Homo sapiens: one gene and its partner. The protein of the gene in region 1 binds, or shares a complex with, the protein of each later gene. Each region holds a gene or a part of one and is shown on either strand. Other genes may lie near its edges. The genes, in order: APLNR and GNAI1. A codon is read from its position in the direction of its gene.

Region 1 (4,137 bases):
CCTGTGGTCTTACAGAAACCTCTTGGTCCATGGAGGATAGTAAAAACCTGAGAACTGAAATGTATCCATGTTCTCACCACGTAGTAATTCTTACACTTGTTCTTCCATCTATGGATTCCCCTTTTCACTCACCTCCTACATCATCCATCCACTTACTCACTCAACAGCCATTCACCTGGCTGGGCGTGGTGGCTCATGCCTGTAATTTCAGCACTTTGGGAGGCCGAGGTGGGTGGATCATCTGAGGTCAGGAGTTTGAGACTAGCCTGGTCAATCCCCATCTCTACTAAAAATACAAAAAAATTAGCCTGCAATCCCAGCTACTAGGGAGGCTGAGGCGGGAGAATCGCTTGAACCCAGGAGGCAGAAGTTGCAGTGAGCCTAGACCAGCCTGGGCAACAAGAGTGAAACTCTGTCTCAACAAACAAACAAACAAACAAAACAGCCATTCACCTACGACATGCCAGGTACTGTATTATGTTCGTGTTTGGAGAAGAAGAAAAGCAAACAATCAACTGTAGCATAATTCACTTTATTACCTTGGGCAAAACATTGACCTTGTTGGGCCTTTGTTTCCTACAGATTTAATGACTTGTTTAGAGATAATTTTGTCCTGGGTTTCTTCCATCCTGTGACTGCCCTCAACCTTCTAAAGCATCCTGTGCCTTCCGCAAACTGCAAACTGCAGTCTACACTAGTGTAGGGGTATTTCTCTAGAAACCACAAAAGTTCTCAGAGGGAGGGTCAAAGCCAAGGGGTAGAGAAAGATGAAGCGAGAGGCAAAGTGGGAGAAGACCCTCCTGTGACACCTGGTCTGGGTGGGGGCTGGGGGTGCAGGAAGGGAGCCGAGGGGGCCAGACCTGCCTGCCAGGAGGACCTGCCAGATGCCCTGCCCATCCTGCGAAATCTTACACCCTCCTTGCTCCCTACCAGCCCTGGCTCCAGCTCAAGCTGGATTGCAATCTGCATAATGTGTCCCATTTAGATTGGATGGAAGGGGGTGAGAACAGGAGGGCGGAGAGCACTGAGGAGGGAGTGCCCTAAAGGGCAGGCAGGAAGTGGTGGCCAGAGGAAAGTGGAGGGATAGGGGCTGGGGTGAAGGTGGGTGGCAGCCAGAAAGGAGAGGCGGGGCCAGGAAAGCCGACTTGCAAAACCACAGATAATGTTCAGCCCAGCACAGTAGGGGTCAATTTGGTCCACTTGCTCAGTGACAAAAAGAAAAAAAAAGTGGGCTGTCACTAAAGATTTTGACTCACAAGAGAGGGGCTGGTCTGGAGGTGGGAGGAGGGAGTGACGAGTCAAGGAGGAGACAGGGACGCAGGAGGGTGCAAGGAAGTGTCTTAACTGAGACGGGGGTAAGGCAAGAGAGGGTGGAGGAAATTCTGCAGGAGACAGGCTTCCTCCAGGGTCTGGAGAACCCAGAGGCAGCTCCTCCTGAGTGCTGGGAAGGACTCTGGGCATCTTCAGCCCTTCTTACTCTCTGAGGCTCAAGCCAGAAATTCAGGCTGCTTGCAGAGTGGGTGACAGAGCCACGGAGCTGGTGTCCCTGGGACCCTCTGCCCGTCTTCTCTCCACTCCCCAGCATGGAGGAAGGTGGTGATTTTGACAACTACTATGGGGCAGACAACCAGTCTGAGTGTGAGTACACAGACTGGAAATCCTCGGGGGCCCTCATCCCTGCCATCTACATGTTGGTCTTCCTCCTGGGCACCACGGGCAACGGTCTGGTGCTCTGGACCGTGTTTCGGAGCAGCCGGGAGAAGAGGCGCTCAGCTGATATCTTCATTGCTAGCCTGGCGGTGGCTGACCTGACCTTCGTGGTGACGCTGCCCCTGTGGGCTACCTACACGTACCGGGACTATGACTGGCCCTTTGGGACCTTCTTCTGCAAGCTCAGCAGCTACCTCATCTTCGTCAACATGTACGCCAGCGTCTTCTGCCTCACCGGCCTCAGCTTCGACCGCTACCTGGCCATCGTGAGGCCAGTGGCCAATGCTCGGCTGAGGCTGCGGGTCAGCGGGGCCGTGGCCACGGCAGTTCTTTGGGTGCTGGCCGCCCTCCTGGCCATGCCTGTCATGGTGTTACGCACCACCGGGGACTTGGAGAACACCACTAAGGTGCAGTGCTACATGGACTACTCCATGGTGGCCACTGTGAGCTCAGAGTGGGCCTGGGAGGTGGGCCTTGGGGTCTCGTCCACCACCGTGGGCTTTGTGGTGCCCTTCACCATCATGCTGACCTGTTACTTCTTCATCGCCCAAACCATCGCTGGCCACTTCCGCAAGGAACGCATCGAGGGCCTGCGGAAGCGGCGCCGGCTGCTCAGCATCATCGTGGTGCTGGTGGTGACCTTTGCCCTGTGCTGGATGCCCTACCACCTGGTGAAGACGCTGTACATGCTGGGCAGCCTGCTGCACTGGCCCTGTGACTTTGACCTCTTCCTCATGAACATCTTCCCCTACTGCACCTGCATCAGCTACGTCAACAGCTGCCTCAACCCCTTCCTCTATGCCTTTTTCGACCCCCGCTTCCGCCAGGCCTGCACCTCCATGCTCTGCTGTGGCCAGAGCAGGTGCGCAGGCACCTCCCACAGCAGCAGTGGGGAGAAGTCAGCCAGCTACTCTTCGGGGCACAGCCAGGGGCCCGGCCCCAACATGGGCAAGGGTGGAGAACAGATGCACGAGAAATCCATCCCCTACAGCCAGGAGACCCTTGTGGTTGACTAGGGCTGGGAGCAGAGAGAAGCCTGGCGCCCTCGGCCCTCCCCGGCCTTTGCCCTTGCTTTCTGAAAATCAGGTAGTGTGGCTACTCCTTGTCCTATGCACATCCTTTAACTGTCCCCTGATTCTGCCCCGCCCTGTCCTCCTCTACTGCTTTATTCTTTCTCAGAGGTTTGTGGTTTAGGGGAAAGAGACTGGGCTCTACAGACCTGACCCTGCACAAGCCATTTAATCTCACTCAGCCTCAGTTTCTCCATTGGTATGAAATGGGGGAAAGTCATATTGATCCTAAAATGTTGAAGCCTGAGTCTGGACGCAGTAAAAGCTTGTTTCCCTCTGCTGCTTTCTTAGATCTGCAATCGTCTTTCCTCCCTTCTTTCCTTGTAGTTTTTCCCCCACCACTCTCTGCAGCTGCCGCTCCTTATCCCTGCCTTCTGGCACCAATCCCCTCCTACAGCTCGTCCCCCTCCCTCCATCCATCCTTCTCCCCTGTCTACTTTCTTGTTCTGAAGGGCTACTAAGGGTTAAGGATCCCAAAGCTTGCAGAGACTGACCCTGTTTAAGCTTTCTATCCTGTTTTCTGAGTGTGAGGCAGGGAATGGGCTGGGGCCGGGGGTGGGCTGTGTGTCAGCAGATAATTAGTGCTCCAGCCCTTAGATCTGGGAGCTCCAGAGCTTGCCCTAAAATTGGATCACTTCCCTGTCATTTTGGGCATTGGGGCTAGTGTGATTCCTGCAGTTCCCCCATGGCACCATGACACTGACTAGATATGCTTTCTCCAAATTGTCCGCAGACCCTTTCATCCTTCCTCTATTTTCTATGAGAATTGGAAGGCAGCAGGGCTGATGAATGGATGTACTCCTTGGTTTCATTATGTGAGTGGGGAGTTGGGAAGGGCAACTAGAGAGAGAGGATGGAGGGGTGTCTGCATTTAGTCCAGACACTGCTTGGCTCGCTCCCCGAGTCCTCCTGTTTCTGACTTCCTGCATAACTGTGAGCTGAAGGGTTTCCTCATCTCCCCATCTTACCCCATCATACTGATTTCTTTCTTGGGCACTGGTGCTACTTGGTGCCAAGAATCATGTTGTTTGGGATGGAGATGCCTGCCTCTTGTCTGTGTGTGTTGTACTTATATGTCTATATGGATGAGCCTGGCATGAACAGCAGTGTGCCTGGGTCATTTGGACAAACCTCCTCCCACCCCCCAATCCACTGCAACTCTGCTGTTCACACATTACCCTTGGCAGGGGGTGGTGGGGGGCAGGGACACACTGAGGCAATGAAAAATGTAGAATAAAAATGAGTCCACCCCCTACTGGATTTGGGGGCTCCAACGGCTGGTCCGTGCTTTAGGAGCGAAGTTAATGTTTGCACCAGGCTTCCTGTAGGGAGATCCCTCCCCAAAGCAGCTGGCGCC
Region 2 (3,629 bases), on another chromosome or scaffold:
GACTGCAGATGAAACTGGTGAAGTGGCAACATACAGGAAAAAGAAGAGGAGGAGAAGGGTAACACAGGAGCAGACAGACAGGAGATAAATCAAGTGAGTTGTTTAGGGGCTACACAGGGTTCTTCCACAGCCACAGGAAATTGAGAGTTGCGGCTGAAGCAAGAAGCAACTGAATCAATACTTTGGGCATGCCATGGAGATCTTAAACAATAATCTTAACTCTGGGGATGTGAAAGAATTATGTAATATTCTTTTTGTGCAAAGATTCTGAAGTCAGGTATTCTTATTAACTTAAGCAAAACACAAGCAAAAATTCCTAAACACACTGTCTACTTGGCAAGGAAAGAGCTAACAAGTATATTCTTAGTTGCTCTAAAATCCCCGTAGGTATACAATATTTATGGATTCACTTGGGGAATCTGGTACTATGAATTAGTACAAAATGGCTACATCATAGAATATGATAAAAATAAACTGAAAAATATATTCAAATAAGGGAAAAATTAAGCCATCTTGACTCTGGGTAGCTTATTTCTAATAAGCACAAAAAAATGTTGCTGAATACAGTGATTTAGGACTTTGACTTTCAAAAAGAAAGCAAAGTTTTAAAGTAAGTAAATGTGTGAAATTAGTTTGAACTGAAGTGTAATTTCACCGTACACAAAAAGAGCTATAAGTAACATGATTATATTTACCAAAGAACCCTCCCCTTTTGGTTCCACTGAATGTTTAATTAAATGTAGCCTAGTCGTTCATGGTCTAGGAGCAGGAGGACAATGGACTTGGGTCTGGAACTGGACTCTGGCTTCAGGAAGCCCCGGTATTCTCATTTGTATGGGTAGGGATACCTGAGCACTGACATCACAGGGTTGTCTTAACATTTCCTGTAAAATGGCAGTGAATACTCATCGTACAATTTACTCAACACAAGACTGAGGAAAATTCTGTTTATAAAAAAACAAATTCTTGAGACTTTTAAAAAAAAAAACAGGAAGAGTGGGGTGAGGGTAAATAACTAAACTCTTCAAACTATCTAGATTTGGAGATTACATAAACCAGTGGTAATCAAACTCCCTGTTTTTTTAAGGCATACTGAATGCTCTTCACTAAAGTAAAACTTTACTCAATACATAAACCAGATGAAAGCTGAGTTACTCTGCTTTAATGAAAAAGTTATAAGGTGGTGGGTGCAGGGGGCAGTAATTAGCTCTGTTCCCTCTCCCATTTCCGCCTTCAACAGCAACCCAGGAGGTGCTCCAAGGAACTAAATTAAACTAAAACTAATGTTTTAGCCCAACTCCTGACTTCACAGATGGAATACTGAGACCTAGGTGAACTAACTGCCTTGTTCAAGATCAAAGAGCTAATTATGGAAAAGTCAGGACTGTACTTCAGGTCTACTTTCCTCACTCCAGGGAATTTTCCATCATAGTAAAATTAAAGCACTATTAACAGTCTCATTACCAAAGTTTTGGCTTCTTGTGAAACCTTCCCTGCCCTTCTGGAAGAGTTAGCTGCCTCAATGATCCTGTCTTCATTTCCCCTTACTATAATGTTCATGTTCCTTATTTTAGCAGTAGGTTGCACTGCTATTGCCTGTTGTTTAAGTATGTCTGTCTTTCAGATTAGATGGTGGGCAGAGACATGTCTTATTTATTGTACATCACACAGTACCTGATATGAAATCTGTTAACTGGATTTAAAAAATAGTATTTTAACTTGGAGTCATCACTAAAAATTATCTAACTGCTTTTCCATAAAATGAATACATTATTTTCAGTAATTTCATCTACATCTTAAGGAAATTTTTATGCTCAACTGCAGTTTGATAAATAATACCCCTTAAAGGTCTAAGAATCACTAAGCCAAGAGATTTAAATTAACAACTGAATTCTTGCCTTAGGGGAAGTTTCACTTAGAAATATGTAACTTGACAAGTTATTCCCAGAAAAGGAAAATACCTGCATATTCTGGATAGCATATAGTGAGAGGGCTCTTTTTGATTTTTTCTTCAAAGAGATCCTTCTTGTTTAGAAAAAGTATAATGGATGTATCTGTAAACCACTTGTTGTTACATATGCTGTCAAACAATTTCATGCTTTCATGCATTCGGTTCTGTAATAGAAAAAAATAAAACCAATCGTCACTAACAGCAAGGATTTTTGAGGACTATTTTAAAAAATAAAAGGTGTTGTAATAAAACAGAGTTTAGTGATTGAAAAATACGTATCACAAAAATACATTTCTGCCATTTCAGAACACACTTTCACTTTAGGTAAGAGAAGTGTCTAATCATCTTTCACCACTTTTTGCATTCAACTTTTACTTGCCAAGTGCCCACTATATGTCATGCTCTGTGCCAGGGAATATCCTGCTACAGGACATTATAATCTAGGGATGTGAAGTGTGAACATGTGAAAAGAAATGACATTGTCATAGAGTTCATTTCATCTAAATTTCCATTAGAAGATAAATAGAGGTTTTTAAAGATTAATAACTTAAATTGAACAAGCTAAGACCCAATTAGCCCAATACTCTAAATATTATAATAAATATAAATACTGGAAGGACACTTCCAATTCCTGTTTCTTGACCTTCCAGGATCTGTGCTCATCAAAGAGGGCACTGATACATTTTATAGTGCTGAAATGAAAGAAATGAACATGTGGTGTTGCACTGCACCTACTACACTATAATTTCATATACTTGATTTTAAAAATACAATCGTCTCTCGGTATACTCAGGGGGATTAGTACAAAGACCTCCAAGGGTACCAAAATGTGCATACACTCAAGTCCAGCAGGCAGTTCTGTGGAACCCACACATAGGAAAAAGTGGCTTTCTGTATACTCAGGTTTTGCATCCCATGAATGTGCTTGGTTGAAAAAAATTTTCATATATGTGGACCCATGCAGCTTAAACCCGTTGTTCAAGGGTCAACTGAACAAAACCGACATTTCTACTTTTTCCCCCACTTTGTAATAAAGTTAACTTAAAATGACAAAGTTTTACATTTCTATTTAAAAACATTTCCCCCATATTAATGGTACACTGAAACCTATCTGAAAATTACAGGGCAGCAACAAAGCATAACATATATTAAAGATTTACCGGCTGGGTGCGGTGGCTCAGGCCTGTAATCCCAGCACTTTGGGAGGCCGAGATGGGTGGCTCATCTGAGGTCAGGAGTTTCTGACCAACCTGGCCAACATGGTGAAACCCCATTTCTACTAAAAATACAAAAATCAGCTGGGTGTGGTGGCACGTGCCTGTAATCCCAGCTACTTGGGAGGCTGAGGCAGGAGAACTGGCTTGAACCTGGGAGGTGGAGGTTGCAGTGAGCAGAGATGGTGCCACTGCACTCCAGTCTGGCAACAGGGCGAGACTCCGTCTCAAAAAAAAAAAAAAAAAGATTTACTAAACTAACAGAAGTAACAAATTAAGAAAAGGGAATCTTGGACTACTATGTAACTATATTTCCATGTGCTATGTTGATATTAGATACAGAAATGCATAGTTAAGCTTACAGGCTTGAGGTGAGATTGACTCTCCATGTTTTCCTTTTCCTCAAGATCCACCTGTGCTTCTCTAGTATATCTCTCTTTTATCAAATAGAAAAGTTAGAGGAA

The links.
Region 2: the proteins of APLNR (region 1) and GNAI1 are in contact, whole or in part, in a cryo-EM structure (PDB 8XZF), measured with the Homo sapiens proteins. Residues at the interface, in NP_005152.1 of Homo sapiens: Arg62 (codon at 1,767), Ser63 (codon at 1,770), Ala64 (codon at 1,773), Asp126 (codon at 1,959), Arg127 (codon at 1,962), Ala130 (codon at 1,971), Ile131 (codon at 1,974), Val132 (codon at 1,977), Pro134 (codon at 1,983), Val135 (codon at 1,986), Ala136 (codon at 1,989), Ala138 (codon at 1,995), Arg139 (codon at 1,998), Arg141 (codon at 2,004), Leu142 (codon at 2,007), Ile224 (codon at 2,253), Ile228 (codon at 2,265), His231 (codon at 2,274), Phe232 (codon at 2,277), Arg236 (codon at 2,289), Glu238 (codon at 2,295), Arg245 (codon at 2,316), Leu246 (codon at 2,319), Ile249 (codon at 2,328), Ile250 (codon at 2,331), Phe312 (codon at 2,517), Asp313 (codon at 2,520), Pro314 (codon at 2,523), Arg315 (codon at 2,526); in NP_002060.4 of Homo sapiens: Glu28, Arg32, Asp193, Leu194, Glu308, Lys314, Asp315, Asp341, Ile343, Ile344, Lys345, Asn347, Leu348, Lys349, Asp350, Cys351, Gly352, Leu353, Phe354.

The regions. Positions count from the first base shown.
Region 1 is NC_000011.10:57,234,451-57,238,587, reverse strand, and holds the start of APLNR (apelin receptor), read left to right. Parts: upstream 1-1,337; 5' UTR 1,338-1,583; coding exon 1,584-2,726; 3' UTR 2,727-4,137. UniProt on the Homo sapiens protein: G protein-coupled receptor for peptide hormones apelin (APLN) and apelin receptor early endogenous ligand (APELA/ELA), that plays a role in the regulation of normal cardiovascular function and fluid homeostasis.
Region 2 is NC_000007.14:80,211,202-80,214,830, reverse strand, and holds part of GNAI1 (guanine nucleotide-binding protein G(i) subunit alpha-1), read right to left. Parts: intron 2,116-3,629; coding exon 1,962-2,115; intron 1-1,961. UniProt on the Homo sapiens protein: Guanine nucleotide-binding proteins (G proteins) function as transducers downstream of G protein-coupled receptors (GPCRs) in numerous signaling cascades.